Homo sapiens: one gene and its partner. The protein of the gene in region 1 purifies or fractionates together with the protein of each later gene. This does not show direct contact. Each region holds a gene or a part of one and is shown on either strand. Other genes may lie near its edges. The genes, in order: CACNB4 and COLGALT2.

Region 1 (5,074 bases):
TAACTTGACTCTAATAAATCACTGTATAATCCTAATGCAGTGATAAAAATCAACATAGTCCATATTTCTTTGGAATCTCCTATACAGTGAAATGACAAAAAAGTCAAATTCCAATCAAGTCTTAACATAGACAATTGACCCCAAATACATACTATGGAATTCTTACAGGTACAAGATAGCTTTGGAAATGTCTGATAACTGCAATATTAATCATTTTGGAGTGGATGACTTGCGAACAATATAATACTTCATCTAGTATATTTTTCTATATCCAATCCTATTTTGCACATGTATTCGAATGTATTTTATTTCACATGTGTGTGTATTTAACTTATAAACCCTTTCCTAATACAGTACTTATTTTGTGATCACTCACAGCACCTGGCAGAGTATTCAGAAAGTAGTCATTTGATTGAATCCCTTTTTAGGATAAATGTTTAGACTTTTTCTTTTTTTCATAAAAGAGTACCTATTGATTTCCAGTATTTCTTCAATATATTTCTAGAATAATATAAAGGAGAGGTATAACGCTGGTTTCAGTGTTTTTTTCATTTATTATATAAAAGAAAAAAAGTAATGCAGTTGTTTTGTACACATTTAAATTCCATAAAACAAATCCATAGAAATGAGGATACTCTATGCATGCACTCTGCATTTTCTTTGTTAATGTTTTTATTCACAAAAATAACACCACGTTTTTTTCTTTAAAGCCACTAAAGCAGAGGGAGAACAAAACATGCAGCACTGTACACATTTGCATAGTATATTTTACCCAGCATGCCTTGTAGAATGCTACACATACCTAGATAAGAAAAATAAAAGGGGACAAATTATTAAAATAAATAACTAAAATTTAAAGAAAGAAAAAAAATTATTTGACAAAGGCATTTTTTATCCCACTTTGTCAATGGAGATATAGCAATAGCCTGGGATTTCAACAGCCCTCAGAATAGTAGGAAAAATCTTTTTACATCATTTTGCCATATTTCTGTTTTAGTATGTTTTATGTTAATACATTTATTTTTTATTCCTTCCCACCATCCCTACAAAAACACAGCTAATGGCTTTAACTTATGTTTCAAAGTAGTATTCAGTACAAAACAAATTAAAGAATCCCTAACTAATATAATTTTTTGTGGTTGGGACATCTTTATTGATCATTCTGACTCGAGGCTGTGAAAAATACAAAAATCTCACACATGTCCAAAATTCAGAGGAGCCCTATGAGCTCACTTGCTGTGACTTTCTGCTGTTGTTATTGAAAGAGAAGAAATAAGAGGAGAAAATATGGTATGAGTGTTATCACAAAATAAAATTTAATAAATTTTATGGAAGGGAATAAAACAAAAGAAATTACATCCACAGATTGCAAGGCTATGAAATAAATTGCTGGAAAAGTATCAAGCAGCAAGTTAAAAAGATGGTAGATGAAGTAAATCTGACAAAACTTAGAACTAAATCGACATACTTTTAAAAAATATGACTGCCAAATTTAACGGTGGATTTTGTTATAAGTTTGTGCTATAACAAATGTGCTTCTTTCTCCTCAATCTATTTTTATATTATTGGCAAAATATATATTTTATAATTTTGTACTGTACAATATGTTTTTGCTACATTATTTTTCTACTGCTAATGCAGATTATAAGTAACAACATAGATTTATTTTGGCAATAAAATGCTTTCATTTTAATAACATCCCAGAAAATATTGTAAGGCATATGAAAAATAGTATGCAACGATATAGCGTTAATGATCCCGCCTCTTTATTACATCCCTTATGCATACAGAATTCACACTGATTTCAGTTAAAAGTCAAAGTGGCATGCAAGTAGGGCAAGGGTGGCCCCTACATAAATATAGACATAGCCATTTGTTGAGAAATTTAAGTGTTCAAAACATAACCAAGAACACTTATCAGGTATTGAAAAGCTAGAGGCCAGCCACTTCTGGTTCTTAGTTCCCCTTGTAACTCCTTATAATTTTCAAATGAGGAAGTATCAGTGTATTCTCCCAAACCACTCTAAATTCATTAGTAACATTTTCTACCATCCTTCTGCAAACATTTTACATACATCATGAGAAACAAAAGAAAGTTTCATATATAACTACGACTCCCCAAACCAATTGCTACTCACTCTTAATTATACTTTGTTTATGGCAAGTAGAAGTTACAGCCCTTAGGATTATCTGATGAGATACTTTCTAGTCTTCTCATAATGTCCCTCAATTACATGAAGCATTTAGAATTAATCATTACAAGTAAAAAGAGATAGCTGCTATCAGAGGATGTATTTTATTTAAGAAAGTCCATTTTAATAAAAGAAGAAACTTTTAAAAGTAATTTTTGAATGCTGTAGTTCTGGGTGCCCATATAAGCCAATTTTTCTATTTTGACTAACTTGACTGCTTAAGTCAAAAAGAAGGTTATCCTTATTGTCTGTCTAACAGCTAATTGGATTGACTTGACTGGTTTGATCATGATTATTTTAAAGAAGAGGACTGTTCTCTGCCCCATAGACACAGCTTGAGTAAGTAACTTACTAACAGTTATAGTATTGACAGTATTTAAAGGTATGAGAAACTAATAAAACAGATTTTATTACATAATTTCCTATAAATTTTTCATTCATACAGTCATTCAAGGATGAGTTTTATATAATTTAAAAAAACACAACATGCAACATTGTCATAAAAGACAAAGGCAGAAATGTAAAAGGAATAAGGGGTACATAGCATTTATTTGAAACATTGATATGAAGTTTATTCCAATTACATGGGAGTCCAAGATTATGCATATCCTTACCCAGTAAATGGCTAAGTCATGCTCTGTGGAAGTCAAGGACCAACAAAATGTGAATTTGCAAACCAGCTGCTCTTAAACATAAAGTCTTTGGACTTTTACTCCTTTAGACTTAGAACTAGATATTATAACAAGTTGCACACAAAGGCAATTCCCTTGCAGTTTGTTTTGTTCCCTATGATGACTTATTTGTTAAATTAACCTTGCCTCATGATAAACTGTGAACCAATTCAAAGAAAACTTCACTAACGTGGAAGAAATGAAAGGGTGCCAAACAGCATTTTGGAAACAGTTTAAAATCTAAAGGGAAGGCATATTTTAATAATCTATGTATTTAGCTTTGCAGCAAGGTTAGCCAGAATAGTGATAATTTTGATCACTACTTATTGACCAGTGTTTTTCCCTTTAAAGACAGATTGTCTTCTCTAGAGAAGAGGTAGTAAATATATCAGTACATAGGGTAATTTCTACAATGGTATTACATTTTTTAAGCAAATACCAAAATAAAACTGTGTAACTAAGAAAATATATACTAACATGCAAATTAAGGTTGCCAAGACACATTCTTAACGGACATCCTGGGTCTTAACAACATTTTGTGATATGTTCATTTAAAGAATTTAAATTTGCAAACCATCTTTTAGCATAATTTCCTTTTCTTACTTCCTTTCACTGCCTCCACTTCCTATTATGAATTTTAAGGCCCCCACACAAAAGACAAGTTCAAGTATGCAGGTATGAAAAGAGGTTAACATTCCAAAAATACATTTTGCAAACAACGACAATAATAATTAAATAGCAGATTATTTAAAGGAAACAAATAATTGTCTCAGAATTTGTTTTACATTAATAAAATTCATTTCATTAAAGACTAACTGCAATGACTTATATAGTCACAAAATTAAGACTCTTATTAGGAAAGACCATCATCTAAATTGTGAACAATTTCAACCTTCTCTCCAATAGAACTGTATAAAGATAAGAGAGAATCATCATTTATAAACATTTCTAAGTGTTGCTTTAAATATTAAACAAGATAATGTTGTTGGTTATAATATTAGAGTGACATTATACCCTTGAGAATTAACATCAGGATTGACAAATTGCATTCGTTTTTTTCCAGAACTACATTTCCACATTGTCACATGAGTCCACATTATTATATGTCTGTGACTGAAATTACAGAATTCTAGTATGTGGCTTATACTGTAAGTTAAAACAGCCTCAAAACAGTAAAAGACTTGTTTCTCTTGCTTATAATCATTTGCTATCTTTAAATGAAATTAATTAAAAACAAAGTATGGAGTATGTATTTTTCAAAGGTGCTTGGTGTGCTTGGCAAAAATAAAACTTTTCATTTAGTATATATCTAGATTTTAAGTATCATTTACACAATAAACTCTTAAGTCTTTAAAAAAAATAAGATGTATATCCCCTTATTTGAGGAAGATAAACTTATTACAGAAAGAAGGGGAAAGAATATTCCAAATTAAAGTAAACATTTAAATATATCCATCAATAAAATATACATTATACCCTTTCCAAGATTGTCAGCTTTTGAATAAGAATGCAAAGCAAAACAGGTATGGACATCTGATGGTAATTGATAGATTGGTTTTGTGCACAGATATTGAATGAGACTCTCTTTATCGGCATGACATGGAAGACTAAAAACAAGGCTTTGAAAAACCTTTAAAAACAAGTGACTTTTAAAAAGTTGAAAGAAGATGGTAATCTTGATGACTAGGAAATATATTTAAATGCTGTTACAGCTACCTGCCATAAAATGTAAGTATCTTAAAGTAGTTAAATGACCAAACTGCTAATGCTACTACAGAAAAAGCTGAACAGCTGTCTAGTCTAAATTTGTACACCTTGGTGCACTCTTTGCAATTAAATACTTTAATGCGCATAAACAAGAAACCAGTAAAGCATATAGAAAAATGTTTTGGCTAATGTTTTCTTTCTCATGCAAGTATGTGCTGTACATGTAATAAATATATTTTTGTTTGCTGGAAGATGCTCTTCTGTGTTCTAACAAAGTATTCAGTAATGGCAGGTTATATGTTTATTAAAGTGCCTAATGGATATAACTCTTTTAAAATGTCTTAACTGAAAGTTTTATAAGCTTCACTAGATGACAGAAGAATCTCACAAGCCAGTATCACATGTTAACTTTTAAAATTTACTAAGCCCATATTTTTTAATTGTATCAAATATTTGAAATGACTTACAGAATTATAGGTATCCTCATTATCAGCTAAACAGGTT
Region 2 (7,300 bases), on another chromosome or scaffold:
TAAGTCTCTTCGGTCATTAGAGGATAGTCTTATTTTCAAAACGGCCACCTGTAGTAGCATTTAAGTTAATTTCATCCTGTAGAGCAGGCCTGAAATCCACTCACCAGCCAGTGGTCTTTGGTCTTCATTACACTGAAGGCTCACATTGGATGTGATTGTCCCGTCTCTGGGGGTTCTTGCAACAGTTGTGGTGGTTTTCAGCCTTCTGTAGTGTAACAGAAGGAATGTGTTCAGAATTGTGTTCAGAGCTGAATTAGAGCATAAAGTGCTGAAACTTGGTCAATCTGAAGAAAATAGATGGAAAATGCATAAAGGTGTACATTTCCTGTTGCATGAGATGCCTGCCACAATCTGCCTGGACCGATCATAGTGGCCACTTTTCCTGGAAATATGGCAGGAAAGTAACACAGGGAACCTAGTTAGATCCCTTCTTTTTTTTTTTTTTTATTTTGTTCAGCTTTGCCCTTTTATTTGACACCCTAAACTATTTCAAGGCATAGATTTTTATAAAATGTGCCTTTCCATGTTATATGTTGGTTTAGAATATCAGTAGCTTTGTTTTCTATTTGCATAACTCCAACTAAGGAGTATGGCTAGCAGCTGTTGAAGTTTTTATGACTCCCTTAGAGAATCTCATCAGTGTTTCCCAAAGTGTGACCTGGACACTCACATCAGAGTCCCCACGGATGGTTAAGGGGACAGCTCCCTCAGTCCCATCTCAGACCTGCTGAATTATGCTCTCTGAGGCTGGACCCAGGATCTGCATTTAAGAAGCCTCAAGGTGATTCTTAGACAGGATTGCCCCATAAAATACTGGATAGCCAGTTAAATTTGTCCCAAACATCACATGGGGCTTGGTTATACTAAAAAATTATCCATTATTTATCTGAAACTTAAATTTGACTGAGTGTTTTGTGTTTTTCACTTCCTAAATCTGTCAGCCCTATTCTTGGGTGCAGTAGAGTTTAGGAACCACTGCTTCAAATACCTCCAAGAACACCAGTCCCATTCATAGACCACATGGACCAGGGAAACTAGTTGAGTAGTGAGAGTTCTTTATATATCCTGGATGCAAGTCCTTTATCAGATATGTAATTGTCAAATATTTTCTTTAACTTTATGCATTATTGATTGTCACAATTTCATGATGGTATACATTGAAGCAAAAGAGTTTTTCATTTTGATGAAATCCAATTTATTTTTTGTTCTTGTTGCTAGTAATTTTAGTGTCATACCTAAGAATCCATTGTCAATTTCAAAGCCATGAAGATTTACTTCATGAAATTTTCTTCTGAGAGTTCTACAGTTTTATCTATTACATTTAGGTATTTGATCTATGTTGAGTAAATTTTTGTATATGGCATGAGGCAGGGATCCATATTCATTCTTTTGCACATGGTTATCCATTTGTCCCTTCACCATTTGTTAAAAAGACTTTCGTTTCCCTCGTAGAATTGTCTTGGCACCATTGTAAAAAGCCAGTTGCCCATAAATGTAAGGATTTATTTCTGAACTCTCTATTTTATTTGATTGATCTATATGTCTATCCTTATGCCAGTACTATACCGTCTTGATGACTGTAGCTTTGTATTTAAGAAGTATGAGTCCTTCAATTTTGTTATTCTTTTTCGAGTTTGTCTCAGCTATTCTGGGTCCCTTACTTTTTCCATATGAATTTTAGAATTAGCTTGTCAAGTTCCACAAATAAAGAAAACGGCAGCTGGGATTTTGATAGGAATTGCATTGAGTCTGTAGATCAACTGGGAGAATATTTCCGTGTTAACAATATGAAGTCTTCTGATTCGTAATCATGGAATGTCTTTTTATTATTTAGATCTTCTTTAGTTCTTTGAATGATGTTTTGTCATTTTCAGTATACAAGTCTTGCATTTATTTTGTTAAATATACTCCTAAGTATTTTACTCTTTTGATGCTATGGTACATGGAACTATTTCCTTAGTTCTATTTTCAGATTGTTCATTGCTAAATGAATAAGAATACAATTGATTTTTGTATATTGATCCTGTATCCTGCAACCTTGCTGAACCCTTTTTATCAGTTCTAATAGTACTTTTTCCTTTGTGTGTGTATATTCCTTAGGATCTTCTACATACAAGACCATGTCACATGCAAGTAGAGATAGTGTTATATGTTCCTTTCAAACCTGGATACCATTTATTTCTTCTTCATGTCCAACTACCCTTGCTGGATCATCAAGTACAATGTTGAATAGAACTGTTGAGTGCAGTTTCTTGATTTGTTCCTGATCTTAGAGGGAAAGCATTCAGTCCGTCACTGCTAAGTATGATGTTAATTGTGGGTTTTTCACAGATGGCCTTTACTGGGTTGAGGAAGGTCCCTTTTAGTCCTATTTTGTTGAGTATTTTTATCATAAAAGGGTATTGGATTTTGTCAAATGGTTTGTCCGTGTCTATTAAGATGAACATGTGACTTTTGCCTGTTAATATGGTACGTTACTTTGATTGGTTTTCACATGTTAAACCAAACTTGCAACCCTGGGATAATCCTGGGACCCATTTGGTCATGCTGTATAATTCCTTTTATAAATTGCTGGATTCTCTTGCTAGTATTTGCTTGAAGATTTCCACATCTATATTAATAAGTGATATTGGTCTGCAGTTTTCTTATAATGTTTTTGGTTTTGTATCAAAATAATATTGGCTTCATAAAATCAGCTGGGATGTGTTCCCTCCTCCTCTTTTTTTTTGGAAGTTTGTGAAAGATTCGTGTTAACAATTTTTAAACATTTGGCAGAAACCCCTAGTGAAGCCATCTGGTTCTAGGCTTTTCTTTATGGAAATTTTTTTTATTACTAATTAAACTTCTTTTCTTGTTATTTATTTACTTTCTATTTCTTCTTGAGTCAATTTTGGTAGTTTGTACCTTCCTATCAATTTGTCCATTTCATCTAGGTTATCTAATTTGTTGCCATACAATTGTTCATAGTATTATCATATAATCTTTTTTACTTTCATAAGGTCAGTAGGAGTGACCCCTCTTTCATTCTTGACTTTAATAGTTTGAGTTTACTTTTTTTTAATTCATCAGTTTAGGCAAATAATTGTCAATTTTGTTGATCTTTTCAGAGGACTGACTTTTGGTTTTGTTGATTTTTCTCTATTGTTTTTCTATTCTCTAGTTCATTTATTTGTACTGTAACCTTTATTATTTTCTTCCTCCTGTTTGCTTTGGGTTTAATTTTCTCTTTATCTAGTTTCTTAAGATGGATGGGAGGATTATTATTTGAGATATTCTATTTTACTAGAGACATTTGCAGCTGTAACTATATCTCCAAGTACTATGTTAAGTGTATCGCATAAGTTTTGGTATGCTGTGTTTTCATTCATCTCAAAATATTTTCTAATTTCCCTTGCAATTTCTTCTTTGACCCATTGGTTAGGAGTGTATTGTTTAATTCCACATTTCTGAATTTCCCAAGTTTCCTTTGGTTATTGATTTTTAATTTCAAACCATTGAGGTTGGAGAACATACCTTGTGTGATTTCAATCCTTTTAAGTATACTGACACTTAATTTATGACCTATATGGTCTTTATGGTCTAAAAAATGGTATTTCTTAGAGAATGTTCTATGCACACTTGAAAGTGTGTATTTGGCTATTGTTGGGTGGAATGTTCTATAGATGTCTGCTAGGTCTGATTATTTTAAGATATTATTCAAGTCTTCTGTTTCCTTGTCTTCCTCCTGCCTAGTTCTATTATTGCAGGTGGGATATTGATGTCTTCCCCTATTATTGTTGAATTGTCTGTTTCTCCTTTCAATTCTTCCAGTTTCATGGTTCTGAGGTTCTGTTAGGTGCATATGTATTTATAATTGTTATGCCTTCCTGATGGATTGACCTTTTTTTTTTGAGATGGAGTCTTGCCCTGTCACCCAGGCTGCAGTGCAATGGCACGATCTTGGCTCACTGCAAGCTCCAGCTCCCAGATTCACACCATTCTCCTGCCTCAGCCTCCCAAGTAGCTGGGACTACAGGCACCCACCACCATGGCCGGCTAATTTTTTGTATTTTTAGTAGAGATGGGGTTTCACCGTGTTAGCCAGGATGGTCTCGATCTCCAGACCTTCTGATCTGCCCACCTCGGCCTCCCAAAGTCGTGGGATTACAGGCGTGAGCCACCACTCCCGGCCCAGATTAACCTTTTTATCATTAAAAAATGTCCTTCCTTGGCTCTAGCATGAATTTTGTCTGAGATTTATTTTGCCCAATATTAGCATAGCTCTGCCAGCTCTCTTGTCATTGCTGATTATATGGTATATCTTTTTCTATTCTTTTACTTTCAACCTATTTTTGTCTTTTAATCTAAAGGCTGCCTCTTATAGATACCACATGGTTGTATTAATTTTTAAAACTTACTATGCCAAATTCTTCCTTCATTGCAGTGTTTTATTCATTTGCCTTCACTACATTTTTTTCCAGATCCTTAAGGTCAGCCAGAGGTGAGAGACTAGGGACTTCTCAAGTTTTTCCTGGGCGTGTGGACAGCCCTGAATATGCCTGGGGCCTTCTAGATTCTCAGGGATATTTTGGAGCAAATCAAACTCCCTATGGACCTCTTATTCCTTGGTTTTTCCTTTTAAGTTTTTTGGTGGGCTTCTTGTTAGCATCAGCTGATAATGCTTCTCAAACAGCTGTAATGTTAAACAGTTGTTGCTCATGGGTTTTGACAAATGACCTGCAGATAGTGCTGTTCACAGAAAATGAACTCTGAGTCAGGTCAAATCAAGACAAGCTCTGAGAATGTAGCTTTTCAAGGAGCTACTAGACAGGTTGAATAGAGATTATTTTCTGGGGGCAGGTCTTTAAGGGAGTCTCAGTCCATTTTGTCCCTGCCAGTGGCTTCTGGGTTGGTGGGGTTTGCCGCTCTCTTAGTTGTGAGGCTACTGGTTTTCAAGGCTTTTGTAGGGCTGGGGTGAACAGGTTAGGATTAGGGCAGCTGTGAACTTCACAAAGCTCACTGTGTTAACAGAGATTCAGCAGTAGGTCTTGATCAAACACTCCTTGGATTATTGCAGTACTTTAACTAATTTCCATAGGAGTGTACTTATTAAATCTTGTCAAAAAACTGATGATGCTTAGAACTATGTTGGGCACTATGAGGGATACACAAAAATATGATACCCTCTTGTCTTCCCAGACCTCATAATACTAGTGTGACACATTAGCCTGGAGGAACTTCTAAGGAATAAAGGGAAGCCTCTCTGTCTTTGTCTGTGTGGGGGAGGGGTGTTTGCAGAACTAACTCTCTCTTTCTCTGGCCTTTGTGGTGGGGACCTTTGACTTGTTAATCTCCAGACGTGTTTTATGTGATGCAGGGCACTCAACACAAGCCAGCTGAAGGCACTGAATATTGAAATGCTGCCTGGCTATCGAGATCCCTATTCCTCCAGGCCTCTAACAAGGGGTGAAATCGGCTGCTTTCTCAGCCACTACTCAGTCTGGAAAGAGGTAAATAATGCTTTATTCAGATTGCAGTTTTATGATGAGGAGAAAGGAAAGCAGGCTATCGTAGGTGAGTTAGGGCCAGATGTAAAGTGAGCCCGCAACTGTTCTGGAAATGTGCATGAGAGCTGCTCCTGCCTTGTGTCTCCCTCTGACCCAAGACCAGCAACAAAGGGGCAAGGAGGAGTAGCTTTGGTGCCACTTGGGGTGGTGACGGGGGAGACACCCATGTCCTGTGTGCCACACTCTTATTAATTCATTATCATCATTAGCAGGAATGCCTTCTATTATACCTATTATGACATCACTTATTAAGTGATTTTATACAAGAAATCACACAGAAGTCATGTGAGGTGGGTTGGGAAGGACAGACCACCTTTACCGAAGAAGAAATTATTAAGTAGCTTGACCCGGTAAGAAGTGGCAGAGCCAGAAGTGGAACCCCTGTCTTACAGATCAAGACATATCTGGAGCAGATATTGGTGTGTGGGGTTCCTGATAAACAGTCAGTTTCCACAACCAAAAAGAAAGTCCCTGAAGAAAGGCCCCTTGAACACTTTCTCTTTTAATGATCCAGTCTATGCCTGCCTTTGTTTTCTTTAAACTTTAAGTGAAATGTGATAAATAGGTATAAAAAGATATAGATCAAAAGATACAGCTCAGGGAAATTTCACAAACCAAACAACACACCCATGTTAATCAGTACACAGATCCAGAAGCAGGTAACCAGCATCCCACAAGCACCCCCCCACCCCGTACTGCCTTCTGGTCATCAGTCCCCAAGGGCAGTCACCATCCTGACTTCTAAAGGCATTGAATAGCTTTACCTTTGTTTGTACTTTCCCTTATATGAATGGAATCATGCAGTATGTGTACTCTCCTAACATGACATTTAGGAGATTCACCTATAACGTTGCGTTTAATTGTGATCATATATCCTCACTGCTGTGAATATTCCAAAGTTTATTATCTATTCTACTGTTGATGGCCATTTGCTTAGATTCCAGTTATGAATCTGTGCTACTAGACTCGTGACTTTTTAATACTTATTTATCTAATAAAAATTGGGTTTCAAACTTTTCATAGGGTATCTTCCTACTGATGACTTTTGCAGGTAATTGATCGAGAGCTAGAGAAGACTCTTGTAATTGAAGACGATGTGCGTTTTGAGCATCAGTTTAAGAAGAAGCTGATGAAGCTGATGGATAACATTGACCAGGCTCAGCTGGACTGGGAACTGATGTGAGTGACAAGATGATCTTACGAGAGGGCTCTGAGAGGCACTCAGTCCTTTCCAATGCGCAGAGAGCCCCACCTCCACAGCCAGTAGGAGATACAGCTTAAGCTTCCACTTATCTAGTTTTCTTTCCATAAATGTTCTCAGAAATAAAAATGGGTAGAGGTTAGCCACTGGATTTTGCATCCTTCTACTCTTCAGGGTGGGAAACTGTGGAAGATTGTCTGAGACCTGGAGTCGGCCTGCAGATCAGGGACCTTCAGACAGAACCAAGGTGTGGCACTGAGCACTTACTTAGGAGCACAGCAGAAATCCCACCCTCAATTAACGTGGCACATGGAGTGGGTGTGAAGCTGGAGAAGAGGCCATTTATTCAAGCTCTAAAGTCCTGTGTCATATTTAAGACTCAGCTCCCGGGACAGCAGGTTGCCTCTGCAGCTTCCGAGAAGGTGGGAGGTTAGAGGGTCAGCCAGGGAGCTCCTCTGTTGGGAAATGGGGCTGCACAAACATGAAGAACATGGACAACTAGATTTGGGGAAGGGTCTGAGGCTGATGCAGGAAAACCAGGCTCACCAAGGGA

What was found.
Region 2: the proteins of CACNB4 (region 1) and COLGALT2 purify together in Homo sapiens (affinity purification with mass spectrometry; 2 studies listed by BioGRID and IntAct, with this or other methods). This does not show direct contact.

What each region holds. Positions count from the first base shown.
Region 1 is NC_000002.12:151,832,237-151,837,310, forward strand, and holds the end of CACNB4 (voltage-dependent L-type calcium channel subunit beta-4), read right to left. Parts: 3' UTR 535-5,074; downstream 1-534. UniProt on the Homo sapiens protein: The beta subunit of voltage-dependent calcium channels contributes to the function of the calcium channel by increasing peak calcium current, shifting the voltage dependencies of activation and inactivation, modulating G protein inhibition and controlling the alpha-1 subunit membrane targeting.
Region 2 is NC_000001.11:183,943,621-183,950,920, reverse strand, and holds part of COLGALT2 (procollagen galactosyltransferase 2), read left to right. Parts: intron 1-5,356; coding exon 5,357-5,489; intron 5,490-6,597; coding exon 6,598-6,725; intron 6,726-7,300. UniProt on the Homo sapiens protein: Beta-galactosyltransferase that transfers beta-galactose to hydroxylysine residues of collagen.